Regions from separate parts of the Homo sapiens genome. Here region 1 is linked to region 2. Evidence: fine-mapped expression QTL. Tissue or cell type: whole blood. Region 2 holds a variant in brackets; the other region holds the start of a gene. All regions are shown on one strand. Distances are between the middles of the regions.

Region 1 (5,146 bases), 91 kb after region 2:
CCTTGGTGACTGGGCTCAGTGAGGGCAGGGCTTGGCCTTCTTTGTCCCGGAACTCCTGGTACCCAGCCCAGAGCCTAGCCCACAGCAGGCACCCAGTCCTGTTCGCTGAGGGCCCTTTAAACCAATGTTTAATGTGCAGCTACTGCCTGGGTCATATTCGCTTCTGTCTGGGATATAGGACTCTGACAGTGATGGGTGCTGCTCTGAGACTGCTCCTCCCAAGGCTACTTCTTCACAACATACTCCTGGAGGCTCTACCTTCTTTCTCTCCATGATTTCACAATTTTCCCTGCCTGTTATGGACACCTTGACCCTTGGGGATTCTGTCCTCACATTCCCTCTCTCCCAACTGGTTTTGGGGTCCAACACTGGTGGGAAATCAAAACTGGGTCCCCACACTAACTCTTCTCTCTCCTTTTCACATGACCAGGGAAACGACTCAGGGTAGAAGGGGAGTCATTTGCCCTGTCCTTTCCCTAGGTCAATGCTGCTTGTCTTTAAAGGTACCTGTGTTAGGAGAGAGCCCTGGATGAGGACTAGGCATACCTGATTCTGCCCCTAAATGGCAGAGTGATCTTCAGAAGTCATTTCTTTGACTCTCAGTTTCTTTTCCTGTACAATGAGGATAATGAAACTGGCTCTGCCTGCCACCTCAGTTGCTGTGAGCATCAAAGGGCGTCAAGGTTTTGCAAGCTTTACCGCATCTGGGTCATTGGTGGTGGCAGGCTCTTAATGGTCAGGTCCTGTTTGTAAATTCATACAGTCCTCCACACCCTGCTGCCCTGCAGGAGATGCTTGGGAGAGGTATTCAGAGGCTAAGGCTTTCTCCTATCCATACCCTCTGTTCCAGCCACACCAAACCTTCCACTATTTCCTGAACTGCCTCGTAGCCTCCTGCCTCCGTACCTCTCTCTGCTTACCTGGTTTCTTTTGCTTAGAATGCCTTCTCCTGGCTGAAATTCTACCTCTACGTCAAGGCTCAGGCCTACCTCTAGCACAAAGCCTCCCTGCATTGTCCCAGATGTGCTCAATCTTTCTCCCTAAACCTTGTAGCATTGCTTGTAGTATAATCACAATCTAGTTATTATTCTTTCACCTACGCTCCCGAATTCCTTGGTGACAGGGCTCTGACCTACTCATCTTTGCAGCAATCCTCCCTTACCCCTGACAGTGGTGGAAGTTCAGGAAATACTGTTGCCTGGAAGGTGTTTTCTGCAGAGATTAGTGATCCATGTACAGAAGGTGCCAGGGAGAATTACTCAGTTTGGAGAGCAGCTCAGATCAAGCTGCCTAGCCTTATGCCAGCTGTCCTTCGCCTCCTCTGTCCTGGGTTATCTCAGAACTGCTCTCTACACTAAGTGTCTACCTGACAGGCATAGTAGAGAGGCTTAATATCACCTGAACTCAGCTTAGAAAAAGCCAAATAAAAAGGAAAATGGAGTCATGTTTGAGTCTCTCAGCCTAAGCCCCGCCTAACTACTTTCCTTTGCATCTGATCGCATACAGAGCCAGTAGTGAGTTCTCTGCTCCTGGGGAAGGAAGATGGCAGGCCTCAGCTACTGCTCAAGTTGGGTAGTGTTTTGAGAACCTCAGCTTCAGCAGTTTCAAAAGTGGCAGCTGCTTTGTGGGCCTGCCCTCTTTGGGCAAGACTTCCACTTAGGTCCATCCTCAGGTCTGGGTGGGGGAGGAGCATCGGGAAGGTGCAGATTAAGAGGTTGTGGAGGAAGGGAGAGGGTGCCAGGAAGTGAAAAGTCATTGGTACAACGGGCTAGAAAGGGCTTAATATAGGGAAGAAGTGGGGCAGGGAAGGGGGAGGGAGAAGCAGAAGGTGAAATGTGCTGGAGTCCTCCTAGTTATCCAATAGGACAGATGTTGAGGAAGGCCAGGGATGGAGTCTGGCCCAGTCTCACAAGAGGGGCCAACAGTGGCCCAGCAGACAGGCCCAGTTTGGTGGGGGGATTGTCTTGGGGGTATGGGGAGAAGGGCTACTTTGAGATAGGGTCAAAGGCTGGGTGGGAAAAGGGTTACAGGTTAGGAACAAGGTCTAGGTTTTGACTAGGCCATGTCCAAGGTTGGATGGTAGTTAAGAGAGGAAACCAGGAAAATAAGACGTCCATGCCTAGTTGGAAAGTAGAGGCACCAAGATGCCAGCTTCTGAGGAGCCAGCTGACTGGGATGGTTCCAGAAAGTGATGTGAAAAACTGGGCTCTAAGAGATCATTGTTTTTGAGGCAGGGGCAAGGGCCAGGTGTGGGGGATCTAGGTGAGCACATAAGGTGCCATAGATTCCAGTGAGACAGGAGTCAGAGTCTAGGGATGGGTCTGGATGGTAGAAAGGGCCCTGCGGTGGGCTGAGGCAGGGTTCCTAACAGGGAATGACACGAAATTGTACCATTCAGTAAGTTGTGAGGACCAGTATCCATCAGGTATACATGATGGGGCTGATCTGCCTGGGCCCAACAGGCTCAGAACAATCAGTGCCCGAGTCGCAGTGGGGGACGGGCTGACAGCGTTCCCAGCCGCGGCATGATGCACAGGGAGGGAAGTGTCAGGGTCCGGGTCGGGAGCAGAAGCAAGTTCCTATTGGGGAAGGTATCATACCCTGGTCGGGGGTCGGTGCCCAGATCCCGGGGTAGGAAATGCCAGCCCCGGAATGTGGGCCCGAGACAGAGGGAACGGTGGTGATCAGGGCTGGGAAGAGTCAGTGTCCGGGGAGAGGTGTCTGTCCCGCCTAGGAAGGGTCCATGTCGGCCGTGTTCGGTATGGGGGTGGAAAGTGCCCGGTTTTCCCGCTGACCCTACCTTGCCGCGGGCGCAGCGTACGGAGCGCAGGGCGCCGAAGAAGATGGGCAGCAGCGCCATGAGCAGGAGGCTGCCGTAGGCCAGCGCGATGCCCTCGGGCGTGGAAGGCGGCCGCGTAGTGCTGTTGGTGGGGCCGCCTGCCTCGGCACTGCCGTTATGCGGATCGCTGAGGGCCGAGTCCATGGCGAGGGTGCGTTCGGGATCCGACTCCAGCTCCGGTTGCTGCAGCAGGGACGCAGGCGGAGACACCGGCTCTGCAGGGAAAGCCACGTTCCCCTAAGGCAACAGGAAGTGACGTGCTCCCTCCCAAGCCCGCGCCGCGCACGCGCGCACACACGCTTGCACGCACGCGCGCGCGCGTGCACGTCTCCCCGCCCGCTCGCCCTCTAGCGGTGGCCGAGGGCCGGGCGGCGGGTTGCTAAGCAACTTGTTAGCGGTCCGGACAGGGGCTCTGGGCCACTGCGGTGGGCATGCGACCCGAATGCCCATTTCCCAGTCCCAGCCGGTCTCCTCAATCCCCTGCTGTCCACTCTCCGCAAATCCTCATATTCCGAATAACTAAGAATGTGTTTATTCATACATGCATTTATTGGGTATCCAATTGTTTATTCACTCCTTAAATATTTATTGAATGTCCCTCAATATGCCAACAACTGACCTAGGCTCTGGGGACACTGAGGTGAACAATACAGGCAAAAGTTCCTCCTTGCCTTCGTGAAGTTTGCATTTTAGTGCAGTGTGTGTGGGGGGACGTTGGGAAGACAATAAAGAAACTGAACAAAATAAAAGTCTGTAAAATGGGCTGGGCGCAGTGGCTCACGCCTGTAATCCCAGCACTCTAGGAGGCCGAGGCGGGTGGATCACCTGACGTCACGAGTTCGAGACCAGCCTGACCAATATGGTGAAACCCCGTCTGCACTAAAAATACAAACAATTAGCCGGGCGTGGTGGCACGCACCTGTAATCCCAGCTACTCGGGAGGCTGAGGCAGGAGAATCGCCTGAACCCGGGAGGCGGAGGTTGCAGTGAGCCAAGACTGAGCCATTGCACTCCAGCCTGGGCAACAAGAGCGAAACTCCGTCTGAAAAAAAAAAAAAAAAAAAAAAAAAAAAAGGCCAGGCGCGGTGGCTCACGCCTGTAATCCCAGCACTTTGGGAGGCCGAGGTGGGCAGATTGCGAGGTCAGGAGATCGAGACCATCCTGGCTAACACGGTGAAACCCCGTCTGTACTAAAAATATAAAAAATTAGCCGGGCGTGGTGGCGGGCGCCTACAATCCCAGCTACTTGGGAGGCTGAGGCAGGAGACTGGCTTGAACCTGGGAGGCGGAGGTTGCAGTGAGCCCACTGCACTCCAGCCTGGGCGACAGAGTGAGACTCTGTCTCAAAAAAAAAAAAAAAAAAAACAAGAAAAATTTGTAATTTGTAAAACGTTAATGTATAGTTATGTGTTACATAGCATGTTAATGCAGATAAATAGAGAAAAATAAAGCAAAAGAAAGTAAGGTGTGTGTGGAGTTTGCAAATGTATTGAGAGCCTACTATGTGCCAGGCAATTATAATACCTTACGAGTTCATGCCCCTGTACAATTTATAAAGCTTTGTGGCTCTTTTCAGAATTTGAAGAATCTGTTTATTTATGTGATTCTTATTTTTGATATTGTTAAAAAAGTTAAAAATATATATTTTCTTAGACATGGGGTTTTGCCATGTTGGCCAGGCTGGTCTCAAACTCCTAGGTTCAAGTGATCCTCCTGCCTCAGCCTCCTAAAGTGTTGGGATTACAGGTATGAGCCACTGCTTGCAGCCTACTGTGGCTATATTAGATACTGGAACATCTAAGCATCACTGTGTGACTGTGCAAACAAAAAACTTCAAGGAGGGCCTATTATTATTATTATTATTATTATTATTTTGAGACAGGGTCTCACTCTGTCACCCAGGCTGGAGTGCAGTGGCATGATCACAGCTCACTGCAGCCTCTACCTTCTGGGCTTGGGTGATTCTCCCACCTCAGCCTCCCCAGTAGCTGGGACCACAGGTGTGTGCCACCACGCCCGGCTAACTTTTTGTGTTTTTAGTAGAGATGGGGTTTCGGCATGTTGCCCAGGCTGGTCTCAAACTCCTGGGCTCAAGCAATCTGCCCACTTCGGCCTCCCAAAGTTCTGCAATTATAGGCATGAGCTGCCACCTCCCGCAAGAGTGCCTATTTTATTTTATTTTATTTATTTTTTATTTTTTTTTTTGAGATGGAGTCTTGCTATGTCACCCAGGCTGGAGTGCAGTGGCACGATTTCGGCTCACTGCAACCTCCAGCTTCCGGGTTCACGCCATTCTCCTGCCTCAGC
Region 2 (5,146 bases):
CCCAGGCCCCCGCCGCAGCCCCTTCCTCCCCTGGAAAAAGGCCCTGCATGTCGGAGTACGCGAGGGGGAACCCGCTCAGACCCCGTGGGTGGGCTTGCAGGCGGGGGCCCACACGTGAGAGTGCGTGCGTGCACACGTGTGCCTCCGAGGACACTCCAAGGACTCACAGGCGACAATAATAATTTATAACTATGAAACATTCTGTGCCAAGCACTGTGCTAAACGTTTTACACACTTACTTTATTTCATTTATTCTGTACTACATTCCGTGAGGTTAGTACTGTAATACAGCAGCCGGTGGGGAGGAGGTAGCAAAGAACATAATTCGCCTGCAAGTACTGGGTTCTTCGATAAAATCCATAAACTGTGGAGGGGGTGTACCTGGCTTAATGTTAGTGCTCAAATCATAATCTTTCATTTGATTTTTTGTTCATCCCCTCTCTGAGCTTGTTCCTTCTGCTGTAAAACTGGGATCACAGTCTTGCCTTTAGCCCCACAGGGATCCATGAAATCGTTTTTGTAAAGGGTTCAGTTGAGCAGAGCCAGGCTTCTGGTGCTAAGGGCTATTGATTTTATTCTATTGTTTATTGACAAAATATATTAATAGCCCTTACCTGTCTGGGACAAGTTCTTTGTCATTCCTGGGACTCAGTTTCTCCATATGTAATACAGGGGGGTTTACCTGGCAGCAATCCTTGAGGGTTGGTGCCCCCAGGACCTAACGATAGCCCAGGGAGTTGCCACGTGAACTTTTGAGGAAGGGTTTGCCCAAACACAGCTGTCCCCACCTTCACTCCAGACCCGCAGAGGCCCAGGAATGCCAACCAATCTATAGAACAGTTATACACACAGAAACCCACAGTGTGGTTCTGTGGCCCCCAGACACACAAACCCATCCATCATGCCAGACCCATGCAGAGATGCCTACAATGCATTTAGGCAGAACACACAAGCCCAAACAGCTGGAGGTTCCACACTTATCTGCAGAACACATGTGCTCTCATTTGCCCTTCTGCACACACCCCCAAGCATACTCCTACTTACACCCCCTCCCCCAAGCCTATATGTGAACAGTTGGCCCATCCCCACTGTGGGAGTAGTGGGGGAAGATCAGCTTACTCCTGTTACATACACAGGCGTAGACACTCATACATGCTCCCCTGAGTAGAAATCCACATACATGTCCAGGAAGATTCTTAGACCCTTGCCAATGACATATTTTTCCTGCTCAGGAGCTGGGTAATGAGACTCGTCCACTCCTCAGATCCTACGCAGGAGCCCCGGGGTTGGTGGGGGAGATTTGTTTGAACTGCCGACAGAGCCAGGCCAGAGTGAGGAGGCCGAGTCTGGACCCAGAGCAGGTGTCTCGGCAGCTGTGCCCAGCCTGGCCCTGCCAACTTGCTCACCCACTTGGATGAGCCAGGAGCCCCAGGGCTGCCTGCTGGAACCCAGAGGTAGGCTGTTGGGGGAGGCACCTCCAACTGGGGAATGGGGTGATAGAATCACTGCCTCTCACAAGCTATGGCCCTAAGCAAGTCCCTTTCCACTGGGTCTCACTTTATCCACATCTTGGCAAGGAAGTGGGTGGTCCAGCGGCCAGGTTCTCCAACTTAAATGGCTTGCTCAATACTCCCAATACAGAGGGGGCCCTGGCAGGTTCATCTGCATTTTAACAACCTCCCCAGGTGATCTAGATGGCCCAATGATCACTGTGAGAAACCCCAGAGGTCTGGAGTATTTAGTTTTATAACACTGGGGAGCAGGGAAATGGGCAGGGATGGTGGGGGAAGAATAGACTTTAAAGACACCGGAAACACTCATTCAGGCCGGTAAGAGCAACAATCCAGATGTAGCCCTCCAATTCTCCTCCCAGAACCAGCTGTGAAGAGGGTCAGGGGTCAACCCCCAGCCCAGGCCCCTCCCCTCAACCCAAGAAGTCACTACAACTTTACCACCATCTAAATTATTTGTTTAATAACAAAAAAACAGCCCCACAGAACTATTGTAAAACAATATTTTCAGTCGGTGATCATTGTAATATACAATACAAAGCAATTTCCTCAGAAATCTGAGAAGCACCAAACGTGACCATTTTTTAAAATGTCTGCTTTTCAAAAAATAGAAACACACGAGTGGAATCCCACCCCCTAAAGTCTCTGGTGACTAGTAGGTGTGCAGAGAGGAGCGCCCTCTCCTCGCCAGTGCCTCAGCCTCAGCCCCAGGCTGGATGCAGTTAAGGGCGCAGTGGCCGCCGATCGGTCTTGTTCTCCCTCAGATCCGGCGAGGCGCGTTGGGGGAGACCCACAGAGCACGTAATTCCTCTTGCCCCCTGGATGGCTGGGGTCCGCCGGTCCCTGGGGGAGGCGCTTCAGCGACACAAGATGCGATCGTCCGCAGGAACGCATGCCGCCTGTGAAAACGAGAAGAAATGAGACCGGCGGGTTGGAAGGGACGCCGCTCCGAGCGCAGCGAACGCCCCCTTCCCCAGGAAGCACGACGGGGGAGCGCTTTTTCCAGGCTCCTTAGGCACCCCCGCATAGCCAGGTACCCGCAAGGATGGGACGGAAGTGGTGCAAGCGCCCACGCCCTCTCTGGCCTCCGTTTCCCCGTCGGTATAAGGATGATCTAGTGGTCGGATCTGGATCTCACCTCGGCCGTCAGGGCGCTGATCTCGCCGTTGAGGGTGCTGAGCGGAGCCCGGACCGGCAGCCCTCGGCCCCCGGGGGTTCCAACTTCGGATTCCGAGTTCAGCTCCAACTGAAGGTCCCTGATGTAGTCGATGACGTGCTGGAGAATCTCCACCTTGCTCACCTTGCGGTTCTGGGGCAGGGTGGGCACCAGCTCCTTGAGGCGTGAGTAACAGCCGTTCATGTCGTAGAGCAGCACGTTTACCTGCTGCTCGTCCAGCAGGGCAGGCAGGCGCGCCCCGGCGCCCCCGGCGCAGCGCGAGATGGCCACGCTCTGCTCAGACAGACAGCGCACCACCTCGCCCGCACCGCTCGCTGTCTTGCCGGCCTTCAGCGCGCAGCTGGGGCCCGCGGCGGCGGTGGCGGTGCTGCCACTGGCGACTTTCATGATTCTTGGCGACTGGCTGAAACAGAATGGGCAAAGCGAAAAAAATGAGGTGGAAGCCCGAAGCAGATACGGAAAATGGAACA[G/C]TTAAGAACGTGGAATGAGAGTGCGGAGCCACAGCTTGTCTTTTATAAACACGCCACGGCCCCCGGAGGGGCGGGCTCAGAACGTTCAAAAGCAGCCAATGGGCGGCATGGGGGCGTGACCCGCGCTCCTAGGTCCAGCCTCCTGCTCGTCTAGTGCCTGCTCGCAGTGTGGAAAGACGACCCGGGTTTCAGAACAGCAAGGGTGGGTCGGTGGCAGGGCACCGGGCAGGGCAGCGGGTAGAGGCGAGGGCCGCACTGGGCTCCTCTGGAAGGAGGCAAGGAAGCTAAGCAGGCATTGCCTTATAATGAAAAGACCTCAGGAATCAGTTTTTCCCATATTCACTTTCTCACTTCTCCAGCTCCATTTCACAGATGAGAGAAATTGAGGCCCGAACGGAGAAGCGGCTGGCTCTGGATAGCCCAGAGAGCCTGGGTTTCCGGACCCTCTTGGAAGATGCTTCTCGGACCCTGATCTACAAATATCAGGACCGAAATTTAAAGCGGGCGCTCCTTTACATCTGCTCCCCTGGGCTTTCTCAATTCCTAAATAATGTTGCTGTTCGTGTTCCTGAGACCCGGAGGGCCTACCCAGATCCCTCCCGGGTGGGAGCAATTAATTCGGGAAAGTCTAGTAAGTTTGGGGCTGGGTGGCTGGGAAGTGAACTAGATAGAGCGCAGTGGAGTGAGGCTGCATTCGATTCCACCTTGAATTTGCAGCTCCTTGCAAAAATTTCCTGAACCTGCAACAGTTCGTGATTTTTTAATGTTTTTTCCCATTTTTGGCTGCTTTTTAAATTTTCTTCTCAAAGACCTCAGAGCAGGGTCTCCCTCCCACGGCGCGGCAGCTGCGGAGCTACAGTCTCCCCCCTCCCTTCCCGGGCCGGTCTGTGTCAGCGTCTGAACCAGCGGCTCAGACCGTTAGACGCCAGGCCTGTGACGTCACCCATTCATAAAACCCGGACGGACTGTCAGGCTGGCGCCGCGCGGGCGGTCGCCATGGAGACGACAAACTGGTCTAGCTAGTTCCCGTGCTCCCCCCAGCCCGTCACCTGCAGACCCCGGGCGGGAGGCCTGGGAATGCGTTTCTTGCGGGCGCGGTCGCTGAGCAAGGGTCACCTTACCTCCCCGCCCCACACCTGCGAGTCTCCCAACCCAGACCCACAGCTTGGGCCGCTTGGGGTTTCTTCACCGCTCCCCCCACCTCTCCGCCCCAGCTACCCCTTCCAGCGTGGGGAAAAAGGCCTGAGTTCTCTTTCCAGCTCTGCAGCTGAGTGAATTCAGGCGGGTCGCATGCCCTCTCTGAGCCCTAATATTTAATATCTGCTTGGTGTTTAAATAATAATCACAAACGTGACCATTATTAATTTCTTACTTTGTACAGCGGGCACTGTATGAAGAGTTTGTCTTGATCATCTTTTTTCATTTATTTCTTATTTTAAAAAATGAAGGGCTGCGCGGTGGCTCACGCCTGTAATCCCAACAATTTGGAAGGCCGAGGCGGGTGGATTGCCTGAGGTCAGGAGTTCGAGACCAGCCTGACCAATATGGTGAAACCCCATCTCTACTAAAAATACAAAAATTAGCCGGGCATGGTAGCGTTCGCCTGTAATCCCAGCTACTCGGGAGGCTGAGACAGGAGAATTGCTTGAACCTGGGAGGCGGAGGTTGCAGTGAGCCGAGATCGCACCACTGCACTCAAGCCTGGCGACAGAGTGAGACTCGTCTCAAAAAAAAAAAAAAAAAAAAGGATACAGGGGGCCGGGCGCAGTGGCTCACGCCTGTAATCCCAGCACTTTGGGAGGCCGTGGTGGGCAGATCACGAGGTCAGGAGTTCGAGACCAGCCTGACCAACATGGTGAAATCCCGTCTCTACTAAAAATGAAAAATTAGCCAGGTGTGGTGGCGCGCACCTGTAATACCCCAGCTACTCAGGAGGCTGAGGCAGGAGACTCGCTGGAACCCAGGAGGCGGAGGTTGTAGTGAGCCGA

Evidence for each region. PIP is the estimated chance that this variant, and not a neighbour inherited with it, causes the effect.
Region 1: it holds the start of HM13, and the variant in region 2 is fine-mapped to the expression of HM13 in whole blood (TOPMed, PIP 0.93).

Annotation. Positions count from the first base shown.
Region 1 is chr20:31,512,389-31,517,534 of GRCh38, reverse strand. HM13 (histocompatibility minor 13) reads right to left here and starts at 3,093. Exons shown (of 13, transcript NM_178581.3): 1 at 2,801-3,093. The coding sequence starts at 2,983. RefSeq lists a silencer at 2,427-2,496.
Region 2 is chr20:31,603,317-31,608,462 of GRCh38, reverse strand. It overlaps ID1 (inhibitor of DNA binding 1), which reads right to left and starts at 3,174. Exons shown (of 2, transcript NM_002165.4): 1 at 2,650-3,174; 2 at 1,953-2,410. The coding sequence starts at 3,075. The coding sequence ends at 2,369. It overlaps MIR3193 (microRNA 3193), which reads right to left and starts at 1,277; the gene lies at 1,223-1,277. It overlaps LOC105372588 (a long non-coding RNA gene), which reads left to right and starts at 3,268. Exons shown (of 2, transcript XR_936669.2): 1 at 3,268-3,360; 2 at 3,518-3,772. RefSeq lists a cis regulatory region at 1-61, a silencer at 1,123-1,417 and enhancers at 1,442-2,020, 2,067-2,736, 2,737-3,407, 3,797-3,976, 3,712-4,550. The variant G/C (reference allele first, on the strand shown) is at 3,159.